Regions from separate parts of the Homo sapiens genome. Here region 2 is linked to region 1. The links come from fine-mapping of genetic effects on gene expression. A gene starts in region 1. The other region holds a variant in brackets. All regions are shown on one strand. Distances are from middle to middle. Region 1 holds the start of PAPLN (papilin, proteoglycan like sulfated glycoprotein). Region 2 overlaps PAPLN (papilin, proteoglycan like sulfated glycoprotein).

What was found. PIP is the estimated chance that this variant, and not a neighbour inherited with it, causes the effect.
Region 2: its variant is fine-mapped to the expression of PAPLN in whole blood (TOPMed, PIP 0.99).

The regions. Positions count from the first base shown.
Region 1 is chr14:73,225,745-73,240,595 of GRCh38, reverse strand. PAPLN (papilin, proteoglycan like sulfated glycoprotein) reads right to left here and starts at 3,090. Exons shown (of 27, transcript NM_001365906.3): 1 at 3,004-3,090; 2 at 764-823. The coding sequence starts at 817. RefSeq lists enhancers at 2,529-3,099, 3,673-4,244, 4,245-4,817, 8,618-8,687, 12,640-13,535 and a silencer at 4,161-4,455.
Region 2 is chr14:73,267,454-73,282,304 of GRCh38, reverse strand. PAPLN (papilin, proteoglycan like sulfated glycoprotein) reads right to left here. Exons shown (of 27, transcript NM_001365906.3): 26 at 13,582-13,748; 27 at 7,682-9,810. The coding sequence ends at 9,641. NUMB (NUMB endocytic adaptor protein) reads left to right here. Exons shown (of 13, transcript NM_001005743.2): 12 at 2,881-3,024; 13 at 5,012-7,089. The coding sequence ends at 5,727. Among named protein-coding and RNA genes, the nearest start is that of PAPLN-AS1, 29 kb to the right of the region's middle. RefSeq lists an enhancer at 5,277-5,777. The variant AAAGCC/C (reference allele first, on the strand shown) is at 10,432.

The DNA.
Region 1 (14,851 bases):
TGGCACACACCTGGAGTCCCAGCTACCTGGGAGGCTGAGGCAGAAGAATCACTTGAACCCAGGAGGTGGAGGTTACAGTGAGCCGAAATCATGCCAGTACACTCCGGCCTGGGTGACAGAGTGAGACTCTGTCTCAAAAATAAATAAATACTTAAAAATTTTAAAAATAAATTTAAATTAATTAAAGTCAAGTAAAATTAAAACTCACCTCACCCACATTTCAAGTGCTCAATGGACCTAGGGGCTACCTATTGGATAGCAGAGAAACAGGACATTTCTGCCATCTCAGAAGGTTCCATAGGACAGCCCTGCCCTAGGTGCTACCCCAAGGGGAATGGAAACGACTGGCACCCCAAACCTCTAGGCCAAAACACCCCAGCTTAGGGAAGCCGTGTTTGGCTCCAGGCAGAAGACAGGTGTCTGGTGGGATGGACCACCCAGCCCTGCACCTTGGCTGCACCCGCCAGGATTGGCGGGGACTTCATGGAGTGCTCCCACCACCTTCTGAAGGAGGGAAGCCCTGGGAAGGTGCCATTCCTACACACTGCGCCCTGCAGCCGGGCGGGCAGTTCTGGGAACCCTGGCCAGCTGGCTTCAAGGGCCCAGCCCTTTCTGAGGGAGCTCAGCGGTGCGGGCTCGCCTCCTCCCAGCCCAGCTTCCCTGACATCGCCCCTTTCCTGGGGACGTTGCCTGCGGGCCCGCGCGTCCCCGCCCCCGACTCCCCTGCAGGTTCCTCCGGGGGCCGGGGCAGGACCGCACTCACCGAGGACCCGGGCGCTGGAGCCAGCAGCAGCGGCACGAGCAGGAGCAGCCGCATCTCAGCCTGCGGGAGACGCATTGGGTTAGAGCGGCCCGGGGCTCCCGCAGCTGTCCTGGGCGCGGGCGAGAGTGTGTGGGCGCGTCTCTCCCTATGGCCCACAGGTGACCAGGAGACCCGCAACAGGACAGCCGGGTGCGCCTCGGTGCACCGCAGAGAACACAGCGTGAGGGCGCCCCGCCGGGCGGCTCAACATGTGAGCAAGAAAGGAATGGCCCATCCGCAACTGGCAGAAGTTCAAGAACAACTTGTTTCAGAGTTCCAGAGGGGAAAAAAAGAGAGAGCAATTAAAAATACTTCTATGTGGTTGAAAAACAAGTTCAGAATCCGAGTAATTAGACTCACTTTTAATTCAGCAAGATTCCTTTTAAAAAAGCTATTACATCAGATGTTTAAAAACTCCTAATATAGGCTTTAAAAAAATCAAGTCTCTGAAGACACTTTGAAAACCCAAATGCTCTAAAAGTGTTAATTGTAGCCCATTTAAAACCCAAGCCAGCATTTCTCTGCACAGGGAAGCTCCATAAGCAGCCTCCATAACCAACGTGTGTATGCAGTGCAGTGTGCGCCGTGCAGTGTGCGTGGTGCAGCGTGTGAGCCCTGAAAGTGCAGTGCAGTGTGCAGTACAGTGTAGTGTGCTCAGGGCAGTGTGCAGTGCAGTGTGTGTGGAGTGTCTGTGGTTTGATGTGTGCATGCATGCAAAGTGCATGTGCAGTGTGCGGGGCGGGTCCATGTGCAGTCTGGTGTGTACTATTTGGTGCAGGTGTCCAGTCGGTATACACGCTGTGCAGTGTGTATGTGTACATACATGTCGCTGTATCGCAGAATGACATAAACAATGTGCGCCCTTCAGTACAAAACATTAAACAAGTACTAGCGTGCAGGTTTGAACTTTAAAATCTGTAATTCTACCAATGTTCTAATTTTTTAAAGATATAAAATGACTTCTGCTTACAAGGATAAAAGACAGCATACAGAAGCCAAGCTCAGCAGAAATGTAACCTGGCATACTGAACAATGTACACACTCGTTAATTTGGCACAGTGAGTCATTGAGTCATTATTTTCGTGGTCAAGTTCGAGATTCCTGGGGTTGGAGGGTGAGGGAAGGGGGTTGCTGCCAGAGCCCTGCCTCTGCTCTGCTGGGGGCAGCTCCCAGAGCAGGAGCCCCCTGCTAGGGCCAGGCTAGGCCTGCTAGGGCGGGCGAGGCTGAGGAAAAGACGGGTGAAAGAAGAATTTTACTTGTAATTACTCAGAACACCACCGCCTCCGCTGCAATTTCACTGAACTCCAAGCCCATATCTGCCATTCCGAAGTCTGAAAAGTTCAGTTTTTTCGGTTCATTTGGTGGCAAACAACCCCTTCAACTCCAAGGCCAGTCCGGGTCTGGTCACGGGGCTACTCCGAGGGCCGTGGAAGCTCGACCTCTCCTGCCGCCCGAGGGCAGGGACCGGGTGGCCCCGGGCACGCAGGGTGGGCGCCCTCAACGTGTTGTTCCCGGGGAACGCGTCTGCCTTGAGCTAGGGCCGAAGGCGGCGACCCTAGGCGCCAGAGGGCGGGAAGGCGGGTGGCCGCCGACCAAGCCTCCCCCTACAGGGTCCCCAGCCGACTCCGGGACCGCCGCAGTCCGCAGACGCCCGTCCCCGTGGCCCCCGCCCACGGCCCCCCTCTGCATCGGTCCAGCCCTGACCAGGCACCCCGCGTCCCCACCCCAGGAACGCGCCGCGCACCCCCGAGGCGGAGAGGCGCGGTTCCCACGGGAGGCCCGGGGTGGCCGCGCAGGTGCCGGCAGCCGCTGGGGCTCCCGGACGCTCCAGGCCCGCGGCCCAGTGGCACCTCCCGGGAGGGGCGCACGGTCTCCAGGGCCTCGCTTGTACCACGCGCCGGGAGCGGCATTCGCCTGAAGGGAAGGTCCGAGCGGGCGGAGGGTGCGCGCCGGGGCCGTCCCGCACCAGCTCCCCGGCTCTCTGCATTTCCTTTCCTCCAGGCCGGGGGGCGCGCGGTGCCGAGCGATGACCCTGCGCCCACCTCCGGAGAGCGAGCCGGGGCGGGGTCTTCTCTGCGGCCCCCACTTTCTCCGACACCCCCGTCGCCGTGAGCCAGGCGAGCAAATTCCTGCAGAAGCCCCGGGGTGCGGGGTCCCCGCCGCTGGGCGCCCGGGGGCTTCCAGTCCCTCCGCCTCCCTACCTGTCTTCGCTGGCGCCGGGAGGCTGCAGCCAGGGCCGCTCCGTCGGTGCCCGCCCAGGCCCAAGCCCGCGAGGTCGGCCGGGCCGCAAGGAACGCCCGCAGGGGTGGGACTTTCTCTCTCCGCCGCTGCCTGGCCTCACCCTCCACCCCGCCCTGTCTCACTTACCCACCTCCAATCCCCGTGGGAGGACAGAGCCCTTCGTAGAGGCCCTCGTGGTGACCGGTGTTGCCCGGGGCCTCCACCCGCTTGGGTCTGTGCCAAGGCTTGGCTCATCCTCCACTCTGGTCACCCCGTCTGTCCTCTCTTGGGTCAGCGCCAGTCACCTCTCCAATCCCATTTCCCCTTGCCCAAGCCTTCTAGCTTTGCCCTATCCGCTCCTCTTCATGCCTATCCTACACACAACACACCTGTGTCCAGCCACCACCTTCTCCACCCCTGGATCCTATTCTTCAGCCGCAACTGAGTTTCTCCGCACACGCTGCTGTTACCCATCTCCCAGCACGTTTTCTCACTCAGAATGCGCTCTCCCAATCCCCTCTACCTCTCAAACCCGTAGTCAGCCCTCAAAACCTTGGTCAAATGTCACTTTCCTTCCTTTCTTCTTTCTTTCCCTCCCTCCCTTCCTCTTTTCTTTCTTTCTACTTTCCTCCCTCACTTTCTTCTTTCTTTCCCTCCCTCCCTTCCTCTTTTCTTTCTTTCTACTTTCCTCCCTCCCTTTCTTCCTCTTTCTTTTCTTTCTTTCTACTTTCCTCCCTCCTTTTCTTTTTTTTTTTTTTAGACGGAGTTTCACTCTTGTTGCCCAGGGTAGAGAGCAATGGCTAGATCTTGGCTCACTGCAACCTCCGCCTCCTGGGTTCAAGCGATTCTCCAGCCTCAGCCTCCCTAGTAGCTGGGATTACAGGCGTCTGTATGATGCCTGGCTAATTTTTGTATTTTTAGTAGAGACAGGTTTTCACCTTGTTGGCCAGACTGGTCTCCAACTCCTGACTTCAGGTGATCCACCCACCTCGGACTCCCAAAGTGCTGGGATTACAGACGTGAGCCACTGCGCCCAGCCTTCTTCTTCTTTTTTTAAATAGAAACAAGGTCTCGCCCAACCTGGTCTCGAACTCCTGAGCTCAAGCAATCTTCCCACCGTGGCCTGCCAAAGTGCCACCGTGCCCAGCATGTCACCTGCTTTTGAAGCCGTCTCCACACCACCCCAGGCCGATGGGGTGCATGTCCTGCTCCCTCGGTTTCTGTCCCTGTTGCTGTGATTTGCTCAGCTGTGAGTCCCGGGGGGCAGGGCCTGCAATGCAGCCCCACCACCTGTGCCAGGGCACTAATTAGCATCAAGGCAGGGGCTCAACGCATGTGATCAACTTCATTTGTTTTCCTGGTTGTCCTTTTTCACAACCAAGACACTCTTTGCCTACCATTCTTTTTTTGAAACTGGAATTCACTCATCTTTAGAAACTGGTCCTGGACACGAGGGAGGTTGGGGGGAAGAAGTTGGGGAGAGGTTGGGGGTGGGGTGGTGGCAAAGGCTGGTCCCCTTCCCCCACGCTGTTCTGCCTTTAGCCCCTTGCTGGCCCTGCCACTTCTCCCTTGGCCTCATTTGGGCAAAGAGAAGTCACCAGCGGGAAGCTCAGCCCCACTTCAGCCCCCTGGCTCCAGCAGCTGCCTGTTTGGACAAAATGCTTATTAGAACATGGCCAGTTTAAATCAGTTTAAATCAGGTGCATTTCTTACCTATCAATGAAGACAGGAGGAGCAGCAGCTGTAGCGGGGCCCCTGGGGAGTTGTGTGAATTCTTAAGCAAAGATAAAGCTTGGCAGAGAAAGGGGAGTGGAATCATGCAGCCTCTCTAAAGAGGAAAAGCGCTTCTTCCATTCAACAAGCCCCACTCCCTGCCCCCACCAGCTGGGACTTTTCTGAGCTTGGTCAAAGGTCCTCTGTTAAGTGGGAGGAAAATGCTTCTCCCGCTGCAGGGTGGGGGAAGCTGAGGCCCAAGGAGCTCACTTTCCTGCTGTGTCCCTGCTTTTCCTATGATCCTTTCTTCTCAGACACCCAGGGCTGTGATTTCTTATGCCTCACGCCAGCTGCAAAGAGGACTCTGAGGTTGGGAGGCAGAACCCACACTCAGTGGTAAGGGACTGTCTTAGACCCACCAGCCAGGCCCTAGCAATTACTGGCTTGGGCAGGAATATTCTCTTTAAGCCTCATTTCTCCTCTGCTTACCTCACAGAGATGTGAACAGAACTGATGCATTAAAATAGGGTGGTTTAGAAAGAAGATTCCAGGAAAAAGTGTAAGACCTTCCTTCCTATTGTCAAGTCCCCTCTGTGCTGGCTCTATGCCACTCAGTGTCTGCACCTGAGACGCCCTCGCATTGGGGGTTTGGGGTAGCCTGGGGCGGAGGCAGACCTGGACTGGAAGGCTGCTCTGCTTCTCACTGTGTGTGTACTTGGGCAGGTCGGGTCACCTCCTTAAGCCACAACTTGCTCACTTGAGACTCATACAGCAGGTGGTAGAGTAGGGAAGTAACTGGTTTCCATAAAATTCCTACTAGATGCAGAATAAAAGTTAGTTCTGATCTGGGCGCAGTGGCTCATGCCTGGAGTCCCAATACTTTGAGAGGCTGAGGAGGGAGGATTGCTTAAGTCTAGGAGTTCAAAACTAGCCAGGGCAACACAGTGAGACCCTCCATCTCTACAATTTTTTTTTTAATTAGCCAGGTATGGTGGCAGTTGCCTGCAGTCCAAGATAGGGGTCCTCAATCCCCAGGCCACGGACCGGTACCTGTCCATGGCCTGTTAGGAACGGGCACACAGCAGGAGGTGAGCAAGCATTACTGCCTGAGCCCCGCCACCTGTCAGGTCAGTGGCAGCATTAGATTCCCACGGGAGCATGAACCCTGTTGTGAACTACTCATGCAAGGGACCTAGGGTGTGCATTCCTTAGGAGACTCTGATGCCTGATGATCTGAACAGGATCAGGCTTTAGACTGGAACAGTTTCTTCCCGAAACCATCCCACCCCGCTCCCAGACCTGAAAAAATTCTCTTCCATAAAACTGGTCCCTGGTGCCAAAAAGGTCGGGTACCACTGGCCAAGCTACTTGGAAGGCTGAGGCAGGAGGATCAATTGAGCCTGGGATGTCGAGGCTGCAGCGAGCTATGATTGCACCACTGCACTCCAGCCCGGGCAGCAGAGCAAGACCCTGTCTCTAAAAAAATTTTTGTTAAATTTCTGTCCTGTGCTCCCGCCATGTGTATCCTCAATTCTCTACATTTTCATATCTCCACAGATTGCAGATCTAAGGATGAGGCTAAGAAAGAAGTGGCCAGATCTCTTTGTGTGGTTGGGTTGGGATGGAAGGCTGGAGAGAAGAGAGAGGGCAAAATGCCAAGAGCCTCGGGGCTCCCAGGATTCACCTCCTCCAGGAAGCCTTCCTGTACATCTGGCTCTGCACTCCCATCGGTGCCGGGCTTTGCCCTAGCACTTTCAAACTACTGCAGTGATGTAGTTGTTTCTCTTTCTCTCTCATAATTGTGAACATTGCAAGGGCAGAGATCCATTTTCATGTTATACCCTGGACCAGAGGTTCATGGTGGCCCTGAAGGTTTGCCTCAAGAGAGGGGCTTTGAGAAGTGTAACTGGTGACCAGCTTCCAGTGGCTGCACTCAGCCCCACACCAGGTTCTGAAGACTCCCCCTGCACCTCCTCCTCCCCGCAATTCATCTTCACAGGCGCTCCCCTGTAGATCTCTCGCACATCTAGTCCCGTCTCAGCCTCTGCTCTCAGAGGGCCTGAACCAACCCTTGCGGTTCTTGGTTGCACATCACAGAAAAGGACTGAGTCAGCTTAAACAGGAGAGTTGCTTAGAAGAGAGGCAATGGGAGATCGCAGATTGACAGGAGGGCTGAAAATCAGGCACATGCTTGGGCTGGACCCCCGACAATGTCCTAGTTGTAGTCCAGGAGCAGTTCCAGTTAGGATCTATGCTGCTCTTCCGCTGGACGCTGAACTCGTGTCACCACCAATTTTAGGCAATGCTGACACATGCCTAGAAAAACCCTGAAGCGTCCTTGTAGACTCACTCCCCACAGGAACATGCCTGTACCCTGATGGCCAGGACCTGAGAAACAAGAATTGGCAGGGTCCCCAGGTGGAAGTTCAGATGGCAGCTGCCCCAGAAAACACATGTCCACCAGGACAGGGTATTTGTTGAACTCCCATTGAACTGAATTTAGAGGATGCTGCTTCCCTCTTCCTTCATTTGGAGGTTGTTCATCCAAATATCTGAGTGCCTACGCTGCGCTAGAAGCTGGGAGAGACCGGCCCAGTGGTGATAACTGTTTAAGCTTCAGCTTGCTGCAGGAGGCAGCACTGCTGTGCAGGTGGATTCTTTCCCATGGCGTTTGGTGTAGATGCTCCCACCATGGCTGTTTTCAAGCTACCAAGGTGACGTCACCAGACGTGGAGTTGGGAAGAGATGCAGTCAGCTCTCCCAGGCGTGGGCTCCAGCTCACTAGGTCTGCTCGGGGAGTTTACACTCTAGTGGGGACTTGCATTCTAGTGCTGTGTGTGTCAGTTTAGACTAAGCTGAGTTTTACAATCAGAGTATTCAAACATTTTTACGATAAAAGTCATAGAACCGATGCCACAGCCCACTAGGAATCCAAAAGGAAAAAAGATACTCCACATCAGAGGCTGCTGCATTTATTTCTCTAACGTCTCCCCACCCCCCAATACATATATTCATTTCCCTTAATACAGTCATTCAAACGCTGGGAACGGCGGGAAGGCGAGGGTCAAAACTCCACTCCGTGCTGTGCTTCCAGACGCCACCTCAACCTTCCTTCCCCCATTGCGTTGCCATATCCAAGTCAGCTCTTTGAAGCACCATGCCAGACCACTGGAGTGGGAATTCAGGGCTCAGTGTGTCTGACAAGTGGCTGTCAGGAGATAAGCCACCTGGCCTTTGGAGGGGAGTTTTACCCTTAAAGCTGAGACAGAAATATATAATAGCTCCTCCCACCCTTCCTGCAGACAAGAAGGCCATCCAGAGGGAAAGAACAGGAATTCCTGGGATGTCCCCTCAGTGACACCAGGCCCACGCTGACTCGGATCCCGGAAAGGGCACCGGGATGCGGGAGAGGCTGTGTGGAGGCAGGACAATGCCTGGGGAAGGAGAGCAGAGACAGTGGGAAAGGAAGGGGCTTTCCAATGCTGTTTCTGACTAGCTCCCAGCCAGCAGCTCCAGCCGGCAGAGATCTCATCCCCTCTGCCCACAGGGGAACACAAACTCCTACCACAGCGACCCCAACCACGGCCTCCTTTGGAGAAGCTGGTTGAGACATTAAGGGAGCTGCTGTGAGGAACCCACCCTCACTTCCCAAAGGGGAGAGCAGCTCCTGGCCCAGACCCCACAAAGGTCGGTGTAAGGTGTGGAACCAGCTCAAGAGCACAGGCCCGGAGCATGTCTCTGGGCCTTGAAGCTCCAGGTGGGCACCCCAGACTCCCAGGCAAGCCTGGTGTCCTGTGGCCGCCTGGTGGCCCCTCGGATGGTTGCAGAAGGCAGCAAGTCCCTGTTCTCTTGTGATGAATCCAGTGAGCCAGGCTCTGAGGTCCCTGGTGCTGTCCCTGGGGGGCTGTCACGGACAGGGGCCCTGGATTGGTAGCCCCAGAGGCCAGCAGTCAAGGCTGTTTAGATCCTTTTGTCTTGGTCTCACCCTCCACCATGCTCCTGGGACACTTCTCATCTACCCTGTGGCTTCAGCCTCTGTACCTGAATGGTTCTCAGCCCAGACATTGAGAGACAGCCTGTGTCTCGGGCCAAAGACCTGGAAACACAACCCAGAAGTCAGTGGGCCAGTGCCTCGCAATCCTAAAACAAGACTTCCCCGAAGCTGAAGGGAGAGGAAATAATTTTTCTTTTCTTTTCTTTTCTTTTTTTTTGCTGCAGTGCTTCTCTAGCTCTCATTTCTGTGGGGACCTGTTATCCTGGACCCCTACTTTATAGTATAATGCCACGGAAAGATGTACAGACACAAAACGGGGTCTAAGCTCTTTATTTTTACAGCTTTCATATCACTGTTAATTCTATATATCTAGGTCCCAATCCCTTATCAGAAACTCTTGAGGCCAAACGTGTTTCAGAATTGAGAATTTTCCAGGCTTTAGAAGTGACTAAACTGCATATTATATAATACTCCCAGCAGGCTGGAAGCCCTCTTTTCACCATCTCGGCTCACTGCAACCTCCGCGTCCTAGGTTCAAGCGATTCTCTTGCCTCAGCCTCCCCAGTAGCTGGGATTACAAGCACACACCACCACACTCAGCTAATTTTTGTATTTTTAGTAGAGATGGGGTTTCACCATGTTGGCCAGATTGGTCTCCAACTCCTGACCTCAGGTGATCTGCCCACCTTGGCCTCCCAAAGTGCTGGGATTATAGGCATGAGCCACCGTGCCTGGCCAGAAGCCCTCTTTTTATGTTTATTTTTTTGAGACGGAGTTTTGCTCTGTTGCCCAGTCTGGAGTGCAATGGTGCGATCTCGGCTCACTGCAAGCTCCACCTCCTGGGTTCAAGCGATTCTCCTGCCTCAGCCTCCCGAGTAGCTGGGACTGCAGGCGCATGCCACCACGCCTGGCTAATTATTTTGTATTTCTAGTAGAGACGGGATTTCACCATGTTAGCCAGGATGGTCTCGATCTCCTGATCTTGTGATCCGCCTGCCTTAGCCTCCCAAAGTGCTGGGATTACAGGCGTGAGCCACCGCGCCCGGCCAGAAGCCCTTTTTAATCAAAACAAATCAACGAGCAAAACCGCCGCACATACACACTCATAGCTCTGCGGCAAAACACACAAATGTCCTCCTAAAGGGCATAAAGTTCAGTCAGGTATTACGGACACATTGATAAGAAACCTTTCAGTTTTCAGAGCTTTGTAAATTTTGCCCATTAAACGCAATATAACGCAGAGCAGATGGGATTCAGATGAGCAGCATTTGTGTGATGTGGTGGGCGGGGTGGCCTACTGGAATCACCTCCTGGTGGTGCCATGAATGTGGTCCAAGCTTGGGGGCAGGAAGTAGGGAGGCACAAAGCCTGGGCAGTCTTGGGTCTACCACTCCTGGCTGTAATATCTCAGGCAAGCCAACCTTCCTGCATGGCAGTTTTCTCATTTTTAAAAGACAATAGATTGATGTAAATAAAAAATAAATACTAAAATTGAAAATTCCCAGGAATCCACCACCCCAAACTCTGAGAACAAAGTGAGGCAGCAGAAAGCTGGAGGTGGCATCCTCTCTGAAGGGGAGTGGCACACACCCGTGTCGACTGGGGCCTCCAGCGCAGGCCTCCAGGCAGCATTGGCACTGAAAGGCAGACTGTGACGGGCTGTCCTGCTCGGCCAGAGTTGGGAGCTGAGGCCTGGCTGGTCAGTGTCTCTCGCACCAGAGCTTGTGACCTTAGCATCACAGGAAGACTGAATAAATAAGGCACAGCTTCTGGGAACATCAACTTTAGGAGTGTGTATGGTGGTGTCATATATTTTTGGTGATGGTTTTTTTTTTTTTTTTTTGAGATGGAGTCTCACTCTTGTCACCCAGGCTGGAGTGCGGTGGCACGATCTCGGCTCACTGCAACCTCCGCCTCCCGGGTTCAAGCAATTCTCCTGCCTCAGCCTCCTGAGTAGCTGGGATTACAGGTGCCTGCCACCATGCCCAGCTAATTTTTGTACTTTTAGTAGATATGGGGTTTCGCCATGTTGGCCAGGCTGGTCTTGAACTCCTGACCTCAGGTGATCTGCCCGCCTTGGCCTCCCAAAGTGCTGGGATTACAGGCGTGAGCCACCATGCCCAGCCGTTTTTTTTTTTTTTTTAACATTAAAACACGTCTACAACAACATGCATGAACCTCAAGGACTTCACGCTAAGTGAAATAAGCCAGTCACAGAAGAATGAATAGTGGGTCGTTCCACTCCTTGTGAGGTTCCTGGAGTAGTCAAATTCACAGAGACAGAGCTGGAATGGGGGTGCTGGAGGCTGGGGCGGGGAGCTGTTTTGTGGTGAGGAAGGAGCTCTGGAGATGGGCGTGTGATAGCTACACATCACTGTGAAGGAACTTAATGTCACCAAATGCACACTCAAAAATGGTTAGGATGGTATATTTTATGTTGTATTTTACCCAGTAAGACAACAAAAAGCATATATTATGAAATAAAACTTTTGGTTTTGGTAAAACTCCAGAGAACTCTCCACCTAAGGCTGCCACCTTGGACTGTGTCCACATCCCTCAGTGTCTCTGTCCTCTGTTGCTTGAGCAGCTTTAGTGAGAAAGTTGAGAAAGGTTGTGAGACTGCGCTACCAAGGCCCACTCAGACGAAGATTCGGTTCATCAGAAATGGGGTCCAGTGCCCCCGTCCTTGACAGTGCTGGAGGCACAGCCTCTCCCACTTACCTGCGGGCAGTGACTCTGGGAGCGCTCCTCCTCCTCTGTAAAATGGGGCTAACAGGCCCTACCCATAGGGTGGGGTGAGGACAGGAGACAATGCCTGTGATGGGCTTGGCATAGTGTCTGTGGCATATTAAGGGACATGCTCAAGGGACATTGGTTTTATGAAGCAGTACCTTCCTCTGTGGCTTTTCTTGGTTAAATGTGGGGTATGTATTAACAACCGCCCTATCCTTTATTCCCCCTGCATCCAATGTGGTGACAATGACCCAGGACAAACCCATACATCTCTCCAGATGTCACAAACGTGAACTGGGGGAGGAATCCTGTTTGTATTCATCCTGACCACCATTTATAAATTCAGGTCTCCTGAAGGGATAAGGCTGGTTGACTTCGGCTCCACACTCTCCAGCACAGCCTTGTAAACAGGGGCAAAAGCTGGTTAATGTTTGTTCTTACTCACAACAATTCCCATGCACATGACCTATTGACATCATTCTGCATGGAAATCCCCTCCCGCAGACCCCGCAGCCACCCCTACAGTCCTTCACTGACTCACCATTTATTGGGCAACTGCCAGGAGTTTAAGAAATGGGACGGCGCCCAAGCTCCCTGGAGGGTCAGGCAGTGGCAAGGTGGCCCCTCGGTCTGTATTTGCCATCCTTAGCTCCTGTCACCGGGCTCGGAGGCATCAGGGTGACCCATCCATTTCCCTTTGCCTGTCCAGGCAGCCAGAGTCTGCAGACAAGGGCGGGGCTCGCTCTGAAAACGACAGGGGCGAGGGAAGACTCGCCAAACCACAGGGAAATGAGAGAATCAGGTCCCCAGCCCCTCCCAGCCCGGGGCAGAATCCTCCAGCAGAGCCATCTGGCAAGGAAGGAGCTTGGAGTGAGAAAAATGCGCTGGAGGTGGGCCCCATCCAGGGAGCGAGGAGCGGAGGGAGGGGCTGCGGGAACATCTGGGTTGGCCAAGTTCCCAGTGGGAAGATGGGGTCAGATTTGTCTTCAGCATTGGGGTGGGCCAGGGGGCCCTCCGCGGAGTGGCAAGGCCTCACCCTCTTTCCCACCGCTATGGAGCACTGCCAGGAAGAGAGAGGGTAAAGGAGCCCATCAGTTGACTGGCAGAGCAGCGGGGCTCCAGGCGGGGTCTTGGTGGCACTCCAACTCTGAGACTTGGAATGGGCCTCCCTTCACAGGAATGTTTACCAAAGTATGTTTTGATTTAAAAACAAAAATCAATTCATGCAATAATTACCAAATGCTTGGAGCACCTTGGCGAACCGTGTTATTACATATCTTTAATGACAAAAGCTGCATAATCACTTATAACATGTCTATGCCTTTATCCATAGTGCAAGAGGGGAAAGAGGGAATTCTGGTCCTTGACAATTGAGAAAACAGAGTCCTCAAAGATGACCTGCCATGTGTGTGGACAGGCAGAGGAGCCGGTCCCTGTCTCCTCCCTCAAGTGGGCTGCACTGGCTCCATCGCCATGGGCCCATCTGACACATGGGGCACCCTGGCTCAGTGGGCAGCACCCTACATCGCCAGTGCAAACAGCCTGTGCCGTCAACAGCACATTAACCCAGGCAGGCTGGCTTCACTTTCAGGTCTGACAGAGGCCAAAGGGCCTAAAATATCCTGAAATTAATTTCTGGATGCCCACAGAAGTAACCTGAGAGCCAGAGAAGGCACATTTACAAAACGTGAAACACTGGCTGGGCACGGTGGCTCACGCCTGTAATCCCAGCACTTTCGGAAGCCAAGGCGAGCAGATCACCTGAGGTCAGGAGTTTGAGACCAGCCTGGCCAACATGGCGAAACCTCGTCTCTACTACAAAAATTAGCTGGGTGTGGTGGCGGGCGCCTGTAATCTCAGCTACTCAGGAGCTGAGGCAGGAGAATCACTTGAGCCCAGGAGGCAGAGGTTGCAGTGAGCCGAGTTTGCGCCACTGCACTCCAGCCTGGACGACAGAGCGAGACTCCATCTCAAAAAAAACACATAAAAATAAAAATAAACAAACAAACAAACAAACTGTGAAGCACTGGCTCAGCTCTCCCAGCCCTGGCCTAGGGGGCAGATATGAAATAAACCAAAGTGAAGGCAGACACCCTTGCAACCGAGCATGGCCTCCAACACCCTCACCGTGTCCTCAGACTGTGCTTGGGCCTGTGCAGGTTCCCCAAGATAAAAAGCCCTTCCCCTTCTGCTGGGATGTTCCAGTCCTCAAGCCTGGTGACATTTTAAACTAGATGACCTTGGAGCTGGGTGATTATAGAGAAGATCCCTGAACTGGGAGCAAGGGGGAAAGGAAAGCTCGGCTAGGAGACACCAAAACAAGGCCTCCCGAGCAGATGTCCCCTGAGGGAGGAGGAGGCATGGAAGCCATTTTCGACATTTCAGAAAATCTGAAGAACTCATACATTCATGTATAAATTTATAAACTATAAATTATAAATTTATAAATCATACATCTAGCCCACATAAGTTAAAACTCAGTTATCTCACTAAATAAGTTTAATACTATTTTATGATATATGTGGGTAAATCTGATTAGTAAACAGAAAAACCAGTTATTACAAGTCATAGGACATTTTTAAAAACCTGAATGCCAGACAAAGTTCCAAATTTCTCTCTTCGGTTTCTCATCGAGCATTTGGAAGAACACTATGTCTCCACCCCTGCATGGAGATGCACTAGCCCTGAAAGCACTCTCTTAAATTCAGGTATTTAAATGTAGTATCATGTTTAGCTCCAGTCTTGCTTCCCCTTTACATCATATGTGTACTCTATCCTTGAGTTTAGTCTACGACCGAGAAAACAAATCACAATCAGACTTTCACCGACAGGTCCACCTTGAGGTATGCTATAGGTTTACTCCATAAGGGTAAGAAAATCCTTTCCTCTTATGCACGAGAAATTGACCTTGGGTTATGTATAGTCTATATCAAATCCTATGCAATTTAAAAAAAAAAAAAAAAGCAGGCCAGGCACGGTGGCTCATGCCTGTAATCCCAGCACTTTGGGAGGCCGAGGCGGGCGGATCACCTGAGGTCAGGAGTTCGAGACGAGTCTGGCCAGCATGGTGAAATCCCATCTCTACTAAAAATATGAAAAAAAAAAAAAAATTAGCAGGGCGTGTTGGCATGTGCCTGTACTCCCAGCTACCCAGAGGGCTGAGGCAGGAGAATCGCTGGAACCCGGGAGGCAGAGGCTACAGTGAGCCGAGATTGCAGCACTCCAGCCTGGGCGACAGAGAAAGACTTCATCTCAAAAAAAAAAAAAAAAAAAAAAAAGTAGAAGAAACAGAGGCAGCAAGAGCATGTCTCCCTTTCTGCCAACAATTAGGACTTGAACAAATTTGGTTCCCGAGGCTTTTCCCGTCTCTCCCTTTGAAGGGCGTGGCA
Region 2 (14,851 bases), 42 kb before region 1:
CACTGCTCACTAACTGTAAGTTGGCATCCTGAGCTTCCCAAGGCCTGGTCAGACCCATTAATTTCTCTATTTGATGTCTTAGATTCATTGATTTCTCCATTCGACGATGTCTTTGTGCCCTTCCTGTTTTCTAAGATGTCTGTGTTTGTCATTCTGCATGTGCCCATCTTTCACCCCATTCTATAAGGAATTTCTGTAGTCCCAACCTACTGCCTTATTTCCCACTTGACTGTTAAGGATCAGCATACCCATCCAGTTTCCCAAAAGCAGTAGTCATCAGAATTGGTTCAAAGGTTATGCTTTCTTTAGTGTAGTGGTTCTCAACTGGGGCAAAGTTTGTCTTTCACTGTCTGGAGACATTTTGGGGCTTTACAAGTTGGGGGTTGGGGGTGTTACTGGCTTGTGGTTAGATGCCAAGAATGCCACTAAACATCCTTCAGTGTAGACGACAGCACCCACAACAAAGGATTATCCAGCCCAAAATGTCAGTGGTGCCAATGTTGAGAAGCCCTGGACTCACCTAGTCTCTGCCCTGTCAAAGAGGCTAATAAAGAAAAAGGCACTCCTTTGAGCTCTTTAGTTCATCTTCTATAACAAGTGTCTTAAAATTTGCCTTTGTGGCATTGAAGAGTTAAAAGTTGTTTTCAGAGATACTGACTAAATAGTGGATATTGACTCAGAGGTCAGCAAAGAATTTATGTAACTTAAGTTACAGACTTGTAGAATTTGAGCTGCTATAATTGCTGTTTCTCCATTTCTTTTGAAAGAGAGCTCAGCGGAAGTTTTACTCCAGAGATAGTGCCCTGCTTCTACTGGAAGAACTACACACTTTTTCTCCAAGGGTCTTTTTCTTTTTCTTTTTAATAAACCTTCATAGTCATGTGTACCAAATGACTTTTCATGTCATCTAACAAACATTTATAATACCGGTAATAATAGGCACCATTTATTGAGCACTTACACATTGCTTGCCACATTGTGGTAGGTATTCATGCATTATTTCATTTAATCCCCACAACAAGCCTGTGAGGTAGGTGTTACAGATGAAAAAAAAAAAAGAGGCTCAGAGAGGATAAGTAAATTGCCCAAATCTTACAGACAGGATTTAAACTCAGGTCCTCCTGAATATAGTACCCGTTACATTCTGCTGATTCTGCCAGCCTACAAGGCACTAAGTGTGCAAAATTGAATATTTCAGTTTCCTTTCCCTGCCTTTAGAGGGCTCCCAGTTTCTAGGTGAAAAAAAAAATTTTTTTGCCACCAAAAAAGCAAAGGCAGTCTTTTAGACAAACTCTAGGTAAACAGTACCAACACCGGCTGGGTGCGGTGGCTCACATCTGTAATCCCAACAGGGAGGCTGAGGCAGGCGGATCACCAGAGGTCAGGAGTTCGAGACCAGCCTAGCCAACATGGTGAAACCTCGTCTCTACTAAAAATACAAAAGTTAGCCGGGCATGGTGGCAGGCACCTATAATCTCAGCTACTCGGGAGGCTGAGGCAGGAGAATTGCTTGAACCTGGGAGCCGGAGGTTGCAGTGAGCCGAGATCACACCATTGCACTCCAGCCTGGGTGACAAGAGCGAGACCCCATCTCAAAAAAAAAAAAAAAAAAAAAAAATAGTACCAACACCATAGGCATGGCTGTCCAGTCCTAAAAAGGATATAATTATATTGTAGGTCAGGGGAGGGTGCTTGTCTACACCAAACTGAATGTTATTGAGAGCTGGGCTAAGGAGAAGAAACTAATATAGGTATCTGGAGTAAAAGGAACAAGGGTTAGCAGATTTTAACAAGGGGAGATGAGGAAAGAATAGTAGGTATGTTGTGATATTGTAAACATCATAGAGGGGGAAAAAAATCTTTGTTAAAAAATGTTCTGTGAGTTACCAGGAGAGTTAAAAAAAAAAAACCTTCAAAAAAAGTTGAAATTAATTGTGTAGCAAATTAGAAATCTATCAAGCAAATGAAAACATACCAACTTCGATTTCTCATCTGTAATAGGGGGATAATACCAGACTCGTAGGGTTTTTGAGATAATTAAATGAAATGATGCATGTAAAATATTAGCTTAATGACTAGCACATAATAACGAATCATATATACATTTTAACTTTTGAGGAGGAAACAAAGAGTAATTTTTTTTTGTTTGAGATGGAGTCTTACTCTGTTGCCCAGGCTGGAGTGCAGTGGTGTGATCTAGGCTCATTGCAACCTCCGCCTCCCGGGTTCAAGTGATTCTCCTGCCTCAGCCTCCCTAGTAGCTAGGTTTACAAGTGCACACTGCCACACCCAGCTAATTTTTGTATTTTTAGTAGAGACGGGGTTTCGCCACGTTGGCCAGGCTGGTCTCGAACTCCTGACCTCAGGTGATCCACCCACCTCGGCCTCCCAAAGTGCTGGGATTACAGGCGTGAGCCACCACACCTGGCCTATTTTTAACCAGTATTATTGTTAACATAATCTGACCTTTTGGAAAAGTGAAGAAGAGGGAAATGCTATACCTACTTCATTATGCCGAAGGCTAAGCTATATCTAGAATAGTTAGATATTTTTTGCTGCTCCTAAGACGCAGCAGCTCTGTTCACCTTAATTTGAAATTGTTTTCGTAGGTTTCATTTCCCCACTCCCCATGCACATATTTTCCTAGAACAGTTATTTGACTTTATCTATACAACCATTTAAAAATTACAATCTCTGATTGCTTCTTTGCCTAATGGTATGTACATCCAATGCAAGATATCATGGTTTTCCCAAACATCAACTCTTCTCTCTTATCCATTCCACCAGTATTGTACATTCACCTGACTGACACAGCTCCAAGGGGTCACTTGTACACCCTGCATGAATTAACTCCATTGATGTTGTCTGCTCCCGTTGTAGCTAATGGCACTGACTCAGCCTTCCATGTGCTTGCTAAGCCAGCCCATACTGCTCTAGCACCCGTAGCAATGCCTGTGCGTGAAACCAACCCTTGGGCCCATGCCCCTGATGCTGCTAACAAGGAAATTGCAGCCACATGTTCGGGTAAGGTGGCCACAGATGGTGTTGAGGATTCTGGGATCAGATAAGTGACCCTGGTTCTAAAACTCAGCCAGTTAGCTGAGTGGGAACTAGGGAGGAATCCTTTCAGGAAAACTATGTTCCCTCCTAGAAATAAGTTGCTTACATAAGAAAGGATGGTGAAGGAGAACAAAAGAGATCAGACTGATAGTCATTAGGACTGTGGAACAGGACTGTGGAACAGAGCCCCACCCATAGAGCTTTTATAAAATACAGATTCCGGCTGGGTGTGTTGGCACATGCCTGTAATCCCAGCACTTTGGGAGGCTGAGGTGGGTGGATCACGAGGTCAGGAGATGGAGACCATCCTGGCCAACATGGTGAAACCATCTCTACTAAAAATACAAAAATTAGCCAGGCGCGGTGGCATGCGCATATAGTCCCAGCTACTCAGGAGGCCGAGGCAGGAGAATCGCTTGAACCTGGGAGACAGAGTTTGCCGTGAGCCAAGATTGCGCCACTGCACTCCAGCCTGGGCAACAGAGCAATACTCTGTCTCAAAAAAAAAAAAAAAAAAAAAAAAGATTCCAGGGCCCCACCTCAGAGAATCCATCACCGGATTTGGTGATGTGCAGACATTCCTGTAGAAAGAGGGGGCCCTGCTCCTACAATAGGAGGCCTACAAAAAGTGCTAGAAAAAGCACTTCATTTTTGCTTTTTTGTACTTTCTAGTTTTGTATAAAAAACATCTATTAATTATAAAACCAAAAAGTTTTTTTTTTTTGGAGGTGGAGTATTGTTCTGTCACCCAGGCTGGAATGCAGTGGCATGATCTTGGCTCACTGCAACCTCCATCTCTCAGGTTCAAGCAACTCTCCTGCCTCAGCCTCCCGAGTAGCTGGGACTACAGGTGCATGCCACCATGCCCAACCAATTTTTGTATTTTTAGTAGAAATGGGGTGTCACCATGTTGGCCAGGCTGTTTTCGAACTCCTGACCTCGTGATCCACCCGCCTTGGCCTCCAAAAGTGCCGGGATTACAGGTGTGAGCCACCACACCCGGCCTCAAAAGGTTTTAACATAGTAATAAAGGCAGTTCACCAAAAAGACAACATATTTCTGGAAGCCAGGCAGAGGCCAGCAAGATATGGCCAGGTCACTGGTTATTTTCTTTTTGCTCTGTTAGAGCAGAAGATGAATTGCCTTGGGCCCTTTAGAGGATGTGCAAGCTAGGTGTTTTTTTTTTTTTTTTTTTTTTTGAGACGGAGTCTCGCTGTGTCACTAGGCTGGAGTATCTTGGTTCACTGCACCCTCTGCCTCTCAGGTTCAAGCAACTCTCTTGCCTCAGCCTCCCGAGTAGCTGGGACTACAGATGCATACCACCACGCCCAGCTAATTTTTGTATTTTTAGTAGAGACGGGGTTTCACCATGTTGGCCAGGATAGTCTCGATCTCTTGACCTCAGGTGATCTGCCCACCTCGGCCTCCCAAAGTGCTGGGATTACAGGCATAAGCCACTGCACGTGGCCTTTTTTTTTTTTTAAGACAGAATTCTCACTGTGTTGCCCAGGCCAGAGTGCAGTGGCACAGTCATAGCTCACTGCAGCCTCCAGCTCTTGGGCTCAAGTAGTCCTCCTGCCTCAGCCTCACAAGTAGCTGGGATTACAGGTGTGAGCTACCACAACCAGCTAGTTTCTGTATTGTGGATGAGCCATAGCAACAGCGAGGGGTTTCTGACATCAGTCAGCTGCCGTGGTTTAATGCATTTGAGCCATATCTAGACAGTGCTTCAGTGTGGCTGACACAGCAGCATGGTCTTGACAAGTTTTCTTCATCCTACCACAAAATCCCAGTTGGTAATAGAGACTTTACTCCTACCTATCAAAACCACAAAATGTCCCATTAGGGGGGGACATGTTGTACATGTTAGGATCATTCAAATAACCAAGATTATAAGGTGAGGAAAGATGCCCCTAACTGATTCTTTTGTCTCTCATCTTGTTGGTTCCAGGGACCGAGTGGGGTCAATCTTCTGGTGCTGCCTCTCCAGGTCTCTTCCAGGCCGGTCATAGACGTACTCCCTCTGAGGCCGACCGATGGTTAGAAGAGGTGTCTAAGAGCGTCCGGGCTCAGCAGCCCCAGGCCTCAGCTGCTCCTCTGCAGCCAGTTCTCCAGCCTCCTCCACCCACTGCCATCTCCCAGCCAGCATCACCTTTCCAAGGGAATGCATTCCTCACCTCTCAGCCTGTGCCAGTGGGTGTGGTCCCAGCCCTGCAACCAGCCTTTGTCCCTGCCCAGTCCTATCCTGTGGCCAATGGAATGCCCTATCCAGCCCCTAATGTGCCTGTGGTGGGCATCACTCCCTCCCAGATGGTGGCCAACGTATTTGGCACTGCAGGCCACCCTCAGGCTGCCCATCCCCATCAGTCACCCAGCCTGGTCAGGCAGCAGACATTCCCTCACTACGAGGCAAGCAGTGCTACCACCAGTCCCTTCTTTAAGCCTCCTGCTCAGCACCTCAACGGTTCTGCAGCTTTCAATGGTGTAGATGATGGCAGGTTGGCCTCAGCAGACAGGCATACAGAGGTTCCTACAGGCACCTGCCCAGTGGATCCTTTTGAAGCCCAGTGGGCTGCATTAGAAAATAAGTCCAAGCAGCGTACTAATCCCTCCCCTACCAACCCTTTCTCCAGTGACTTACAGAAGACGTTTGAAATTGAACTTTAAGCAATCATTATGGCTATGTATCTTGTCCATACCAGACAGGGAGCAGGGGGTAGCGGTCAAAGGAGCAAAACAGACTTTGTCTCCTGATTAGTACTCTTTTCACTAATCCCAAAGGTCCCAAGGAACAAGTCCAGGCCCAGAGTACTGTGAGGGGTGATTTTGAAAGACATGGGAAAAAGCATTCCTAGAGAAAAGCTGCCTTGCAATTAGGCTAAAGAAGTCAAGGAAATGTTGCTTTCTGTACTCCCTCTTCCCTTACCCCCTTACAAATCTCTGGCAACAGAGAGGCAAAGTATCTGAACAAGAATCTATATTCCAAGCACATTTACTGAAATGTAAAACACAACAGGAAGCAAAGCAATCTCCCTTTGTTTTTCAGGCCATTCACCTGCCTCCTGTCAGTAGTGGCCTGTATTAGAGATCAAGAAGAGTGGTTTGTGCTCAGGCTGGGGAACAGAGAGGCACGCTATGCTGCCAGAATTCCCAGGAGGGCATATCAGCAACTGCCCAGCAGAGCTATATTTTGGGGGAGAAGTTGAGCTTCCATTTTGAGTAACAGAATAAATATTATATATATCAAAAGCCAAAATCTTTATTTTTATGCATTTAGAATATTTTAAATAGTTCTCAGATATTAAGAAGTTGTATGAGTTGTAAGTAATCTTGCCAAAGGTAAAGGGGCTAGTTGTAAGAAATTGTACATAAGATTGATTTATCATTGATGCCTACTGAAATAAAAAGAGGAAAGGCTGGAAGCTGCAGACAGGATCCCTAGCTTGTTTTCTGTCAGTCATTCATTGTAAGTAGCACATTGCAACAACAATCATGCTTATGACCAATACAGTCACTAGGTTGTAGTTTTTTTTAAATAAAGGAAAAGCAGTATTGTCCTGGTTTTAAACCTATGATGGAATTCTAATGTCATTATTTTAATGGAATCAATCGAAATATGCTCTATAGAGAATATATCTTTTATATATTGCTGCAGTTTCCTTATGTTAATCCTTTAACACTAAGGTAACATGACATAATCATACCATAGAAGGGAACACAGGTTACCATATTGGTTTGTAATATGGGTCTTGGTGGGTTTTGTTTTATCCTTTAAATTTTGTTCCCATGAGTTTTGTGGGGATGGGGATTCTGGTTTTATTAGCTTTGTGTGTGTCCTCTTCCCCCAAACCCCCTTTTGGTGAGAACATCCCCTTGACAGTTGCAGCCTCTTGACCTCGGATAACAATAAGAGAGCTCATCTCATTTTTACTTTTGAACGTTGGCCTTACAATCAAATGTAAGTTATATATATTTGTACTGATGAAAATTTATAATCTGCTTTAACAAAAATAAATGTTCATGGTAGAAGCTTTTGCCCATGAAGGGCTGTTCTTTCCCCTTTCCTTTATTAGTAAATGAATTTATTTTTCGTTCTTTTGGTCTTACTCTCCATTCTACTGCTGCTGTAAATCCCTAGTTTAGTGACTAGAAAAATACCCTTAAGATTCATATTTTCATTCATACTTTAATCCTGAGTGTATCTCTAAAGTCAGATTCTTGCTGCTCAAAGTGTGGTCTGTAACAGCAGCATGGACTTCACCTAGGAGCTGGTTAGAAATGCAGAATCTCAGCGGGGTGGGGCAGTGCTTCTCAACCTGGGCTATGCAATAGAATCACCTGAGGATATCTTTTTAAAATCCTAACGCCTGGCCTATATTCCAGACCAATTAAATCAAAATTTTAGTGGGGCAGGGGGACCCCCCAGGTTGTGTTTTTTTTTTTTAAGCTCGCAATATGGTAAAGTTGAGAACCACTGGCCTAGAATGAGTTTTACCTCTAATCTTAGCCCACTATTCTGTGACTGGTTCTATTAGAACTAGTTAGCTGCTAGCTAACCTCAAACTTACCTTCTGATGTGTTTATACCAATAGGCCAAAATCTGGTTTAATTAAACTGGGGATTTCAAAAAAGTGGCCTTTATTTTCCAATTTCTATAGCAAAACCAGCCATAAGTGAACATGGATGCTCTTCAATATTTTTCCAGTATTAAATGAAAAAAGACCTCTGCCCCAGCCCACATTTCCTTTGTTGAATGAGTAGAGAAGACTGAGAAGTATCACTCACCCGTGATGTGGTTTGTCCCTTTTCCAGCCAGTGTGTTGGTAATAAAAGTCACCTTTCAGAGCTTTGGTCCCTGTAATGCCCGTCTTTCCTGTGTCCAGGAATAACCTTTGCTACTAGGCAGTCCTCTGAAAGATTTGTAGAAGGTTAAAGTGGAAAGGGACTTGGAAGCTCATAGAATCCATGCCTCTTCTTTTAGCATCAAGGAATTAGAAGTCCTGAGAGATGAAGAATGTTGTCTTCCAACTCAAACCATTTCTGAAGCCATTTCCCTGTTACTGCATTGCCCACAACCCTTCCCCATTGCTATCCTCATCCTGCTAATGCTGTTTTTAATGACTGACAGTCTGATTTGTCTTTGGCAGCAAACATTTTGCTTCACAGATTCCTACTTAAGGAAGAGAGGGGCTCCTCATTGTCACTGTACAGAGCAGGCTGGTCAGCTTTACACAGGTGTCAGATGAACCGTCACAGCCAGATTTGCATGTTGGCCTCAGGAGGGCTTCAAGGTCCAACATCTCGACGTAAGGAGCGTTTCCAGTTCTTTCATGCTCAGATAACAGTGCTAACTGCAGCTGTTTCATCCCAAATCCCTATTTGAGGTCTTAACATCTATTCCATTTTGCCAACAAGGGTTATGCTGTTAACCCTCTGCACCAGATTTAGAGCTGACTGATGCACTGCCTAGAAGGGTGAGAGAGACTAGAGCAATGAACCATCGCTGATTTTAGCACAGAATACTTCCCTGATACAGCAGGACTTGGCATGCCCTTTAGAAAACAAACAGGTGTTAACTTTGAAATCATTACACATCTCCCTGCCCAGCTTTAAATTAAGTGGAACCCTGACAGCTAGCTTTAAAACACATTGATGGGCTGGGCACAGTGGCTCACACCTCTAATCCCAGCATTTTGGGAGGCCGAGGCGGGCGGATTACCTGAGGTCGGGAGTTCAAGACCAGTCTGACCAACATGGAGAAACCCCGTCTCTACTAAAAATACAAAATTAGCCAGGCATGGTGGCACATACCTGTAATCCCAGCTACTCAGGAGGCTGAGGCTGGAGAAGCGCTTGAACCCAGGAGGTGGAGGTTGCAGTGAGCCAAGATCGCACCATTGTACTCCAGCCTGGGCAAGAAGTGCGAAACTCTGTCTCAAAAAAAAAATAAAAAAAATGCATTGATGGCTGGGCGTGGTGGCTCATGCCTGTAATCCCAGCACTTTGGGAGGCTGAGGCGGGCAGATCATCTGAGGTCAGAAGTTCGAGACCAGCCTGGCCAACATGGTGAAACCCCATCTCAACTAAAAATACAAAAATTACCCAGGCATGGTGATAGGCATCTGTAATCCTAGCTACTCAGAAGGCTGACACAGGAGAATCAAGAACCCAGGAGACGGAGGTTGCAGTGAGCTGAGATCGCGCCATTGCCCTCCAGCCTGGGCAACAAGAGTGAAACTCTGTCTCAAAAAACAAACAAACAAATGCATTTAACTATTCCTGTGTAACAAATTATAAAGGGAAGCTGTAAAGTAAAGGTTTTTCTTATCCAAACAGATTGCTCTTCTTGAAAACAGCAGCCTGTGGTTATGTCAGAGATGCAAACACTGCTGAAGGCTACAGAGAGAAGCTGGTAACTGGCTGCCGTTGAGGCTAAACACTGGGTGGGTTTTTGAAAGAGCTAATGTATTCCAGAAGATAACTCCCTTTGCCAGCCAGAGAGAGGAAGCCAAGAGTCCATCTTCCTTTCTCCCTAGCCCTATGAACTATTTTGGACTGGGGCTGGAACTAGCCTTCATCCCTACTGCCAGATGGGCTGAGCGTGAGGCTGGAAACGTGAACAGCTGGCACAGCAGAAGCTGGAGTAATACTCATTGCCACAAAGCTGGGCCTGCAGGATCAAATCACAGTTGGCCAGCTCTGGCTGGTCGACGCAGTCCCTGCCAGGGTCCCTGGGCTGGGCGGTGGGTGCTGCAGAACGACAGGGGAGAGAGAAGGTGGTGAGGAAGCTCTGTGTATGCTGAAAATTCTCACCTGCCATTTCATTTCCTTCAAAGGAACACAGCATTATAACTGCCAGATTGAAAACGAAGTGCACTTACCCTGTAACCTTTTAACCATACGTACAAACTCTATGAGGGATGATGATTTCTACCTGTTTCTTGGCCTCACTTCAACATGCAGTGGTCCTCCCATTATTATTTGTGGCCTCAGCCCACTGAATAGCTCTTCCTAGACTCCCAAATATTTATTGACTGGATAATTAAACATCTCTTGAAGTTAACTCCTTATGTTTGAGACCTGAATTACTAAATGACAACTGTTCTTGCCTCTGGATTGGGAGAGCAGGTAGGATCAGCCCCAAGTAAAATTTTGAGTTAGCAAGAGCTCTTATCTTTTCCCTTTCTCTGCTGGGTTCCTCCAACCATCAAAGTTTTGTCCCTTCAATATCACCAGCTTATCTTAGTCACCTGGGTCCTCATCCTTCCAGTTTTTCACTTTCCCCAGAGGAAGCAATGCATATTAGACAAGGTAATAGGAAAACAGTCCTGTTAACGGTGGCTCTAATACTAACTACACTGAGAACAAAGC[AAAGCC/C]CTTGTTTTCTCTCCCTCTGAATTTACTAGGAACGTCTGTATCTCATAACTCCCTATTAAGTTTCATTCAGCTGGGTGTGGTGGCTCATGCCTGTAATCCCAGCACTTTGGGAGGCCAAGGCGGGCGGATCACGAGGTCAGGAGTTTGAGACCAGCCTGGCCAATATGGTGAAACCCCATCTCTACTAAAAATGCAAAAATTAGCCAGGCATGGTGGCGTGCCCCTGTAGTCCCAGCTACTCGGGAAGCTGAGGCAGAAGAATCGCTTGAACCCAGGAGGCAGAGGTTACAGTGAGCTGAGACCACACCACTGCACTCCAGCCTGGGTGACAGAGCAAGATTCTGTCTTAAAAAAAAAAAAAAAATTTCATTCTACTGCTTCATCTCTCTTCTGGAAGGGGTTCTTAAAACTCAGCTGACTTAGACCAGAGTGGTACCTTCCCTGAAGTCAGACCTCAAGCAGCCAGAGAAAGCTTATCTTTCTCTCTCCCCTTGTTTACTCACAAAATACCACTAAAAGACTGTACCTAGCAGCGAACAACCTTACAAACGTTTGGTATATTGGTATAACCAGACTATTACCTACCTAAATTTATATAGATAACAAAGCCATTAATGCATATTGTTTCTAAAAATCTGTAACTTTGGTATCAACTCTGAGCTGGTACAGCCCAAGACCCATCATAGTGGGAACTCAGCATAGTGATTAAGCACACCAGCTCTGGACCCATACTGCCCGGGCTCAATCCGGGCTCTGCCACTTGCCAGCTGGGTAACTCTGGGCAAGTTGCTTAAGCCCTTTATGCACATTTCTTCATCTGTGAAATGGGACTAATAACAGCAACAGCAACCTACTTCACAGCGATGTTGAGAAGTCCTCCCAGTAGAGCTATGTCCCTTTTACCTCAGCCTGACCACCCCAAGGCCTCCTACCCTGGTGCTAACACTGAAATTCAATGTGCCACCCAACCATGAGTAGGGCAGGGTCAGGCAGCCGCACACCGTATGACCCAACAAAAAATGAACAGGTGAGAGCAGCCAGCAGAGGACCGGAGGAGAGTGGCCAGACTGAGGCCATGTCTGTCCCATCTGGGACACACATCTCAGGCCATTTCAGCGTGGTGACCAGGTATCAGGCAAGTTTCTCATTGTAGTTTGGTTTTCCATGTAATCCCATCTGGAGCTAATCGCAAACATAATGTCTAGGTCCTCTTGACAGTTCTCTCACTGTGAATCTGCATTTTGCTTTGTCACACAGCCTTGATTTGGTTATTATGTAGACAAGGTCAATTTTCTGGACATGATACAGGTGAAAAGTAGTCCCTGGAGTGTGGTGCTTTCGCCAATGTAACTCCATCATTGTGCAGGCAGGCACTTAGTCACCATGTATCTGAGTGTCGCGGCTTTTGTAGCTGGGTGAGCAGGAGGGAATGGAGGGAAGAACGAGTTTTAACGCTCCCGTTCACCGAGCTGCGAGCGGCGGGAACATTTGTCCCTGTAACACCCCCTTGGGGCTCCGCGGTTGCTGGCATCTCCGAGTTTTCGGGCGCCACCATGTTCCCCTTGTCTATACGTTAGCACCCAGTGCGGAAGCCGCCTGTGCCGTGCGCTGAGCGCGGGGCCGCCACGAGTGCGGGATCCGGGTCAGCGGAGCGCAGCCTGCCCGGCCAAGTGGGCGGAGCGAGACGGTGGGCCGAGCGAGGCCCCGGACAGAGGTCAAGGCGGCGGGCTGGCGAAGCGGCAGGAAGGAACCCTGTAACCCTCCCTCCCGCTCGCCGAGCAACAGGTGAGAAAAAAGCCGCTGGACAACATTTCCAGCCACAACATGAGCACCTAGTGATGCCAAGCACTGAGCTGGGCCCTGGGGAGGCGATCTCTAAAGAGATCATAGACAGGAAGCCGACAAGTCAGTCCCACTCACAAAGCAACATTTCAGCCAGACCTTCAACTTCTAGTACTGGCCAGTCTCCACCCTCAGCCTGGCAGCCAGGAAGCAGCCAGGCCTGCCCCTCTGAGTGTAACCGTGCTCCTGGCATGGCGCTGCAGCCCTGATTGTCAGGAATGCCCAGAAGACCAGGCAGGAAGGGCCCTGGCACCTCCGAGCCTGGCATACTCCCCCAAGGTCTGTATCAGGCCTGTGAGAATTGGCAGCTTGGCCCGAGGTACCACTCTGTCTTCAGTCCCTCCGTGAACAAGAACCAAGGACACAAGGAAGCACAGGCTGGGGGACGAGCAAAGCCCTGTCCCCCTTTCCCTCCTGCTTATTTGAACATATCTCTTGTAAGTGTGAACTCTGAACCACAATCTGTTTCATCAGTTCTGATATGCACTTATTTTCACATCTCTCAAGTTGGTTTGCATCCTAATTGATGGTATCAGAATTGTGTCGTTTCACTGGCAGCATTTTTTTCTTGGTACAAAAATAATGCATCTTACAGGCAATTTGGATTTGTTGAAGTATGATAGAGTAGTAGCTAGAGGAGGTAAGGCTACAATATCAAATATCAAATGATGCAAGTAAGATTCCACTTAGGTACAAGTATAGTAATTTCGTGGGGGTAAAAAAAAAAAAACATGGGGAGTCAAAAGACATGGGCTCTAGTCCCAGGTAGGCCACATTTGCGGTGTGACCGGTGGAAACACCACTTACGCTCTCTGCATACCTGTCTCATTTGTAAAATGGTGATGATAATCCCTGCCCTTTCCTTTCTGGGTTATATGGTCAAACGGCCATAAAGTGGCCAGATTTTAGTGGTTTAGAGTGGATTAGAGTGGACAGATTTTAGTGGTCTGCCTTAAGTTTTAAGTTTTATAATGAAATTCCAGTCAGTCATATGTCTCAAAATCGGTGAGTCTGAATGTCCTGCATGCATTAATGTCTATTAAGCTATCTCCAGGGGCCCAGCAGAGCATCATTTCCTTCATCTCCACTACAGCCCTCTCAGGTGGTGGAGCAGCCCCACTGTAGACGGGAGGAAAATGAGGCTCAGGAAGGTAAGCCCCTTGCCCCAAGTCACACTACCAGCAACTGGCAGGGTGAGCCAGGATTCAAACCAGAGTCCCTCAGACTGCAGAGCCAGCCCTTGAGAACCAGTAAATCTACTGGGGAATGTCCTTCCCATCCCCGGATATAGACCTTTCCTACCTGGTGAGACCACCTTCACCTCGGTGCTGCGGCTGACTGCCTGGCTCCCCTGGTAGGCACTGCACGTGTAGGAGCCCTCATCCCTGGCCCGCAAGTTGTAAATGAGCAGCGTGCCATCTGGGGACTGGTGGACACGGTGGCCATCAGCCTGCACAGGTAGCCCGTTCCTGGAGGAGAGAGGACACTGGGAGAGCCATCAAGGGCCTCTGGAGGTCTGGGAGACAGAGGGAAGAGGTAATCAAAGGCCATTCCAGAGCCAACCGTTCCCACCCCTTGAGAGCAAACAGGTGGAGGACAGGGAGAAATCAAGAATGACCAAGGTTTCTAGGTTGGGTTACTGGGTGATGATGGTGCCCCTCCAACCTTGGGAGATCCAAGGCTGGGGTGAATGGCGAGGTTGTTTTCTGCTATTTCAAATTTGGGGTGCCTGTGAGATAGCAGGAGGCCTCAGATTTGAAGTCTGGAGCTCAAGAGTCCAGACCCAGATAGTGTGTCAGCATCGCACTGACGCAGCGAAGTGCATGTCTATGAGGTGGTCCAAGTCACACGGGGAGAAACCAAGGACAGGCCCTGAGGCACAGCAGAAGACAGTAGTTCCTGGAGCAGAGGGAAGGGAGAATTTCAAGAAGGAGCATACGGCAAGCAGAACGACACTACAGGTCACGTAAAGACTGCAAGGTGTCCAGTGGAGTTAGGGAGAGAGGCAGTGACCTTGGCCAGGACAGTGTCCTGGAACAGGGGCTGACATGCGGCCCCACTGCAGGCCCTGAGAAGTGAGTAGGGAGATGAACAGGCAGAGGCAACCAACATGGACAGCTGTAAAGGGGACACTATGTCAGCATAGGGTCTGCAGGGACATAGAGGCTCAATGGAAGGTGGTTGTGAAGAGGGGAGTTCTATGCATGTTTGCTGCTGGAAAGATCCAGGAGAGGCCAACATGGAGAAGCAGGCCTGACAGGCTGATCAGGGGATGGCTGGACTGAGCACACCAGTGGGGACACCTCTAGCGGCTCCCACCGCCTTCCCTGGGCTCAAGGCCACACAAGACACAGATGCCCTCCGCAATCGCGTCACCTCTCCCAGCCAGTGCACAGGCCGGTTCCTATCCTGGTGTCCTTTCTCAAATGCCCACCTTTGGCACTTGCTGCTTCCTCTACCAAGAACATCCTTTGCCATCCTTAGCTATTAAGGTGCAGCCAAAGTCATTTCCTGGCCCTCTTCCTTGACACTCCTCTGTGCACAGACAGCAGTTGCAACAAAACACATCTGG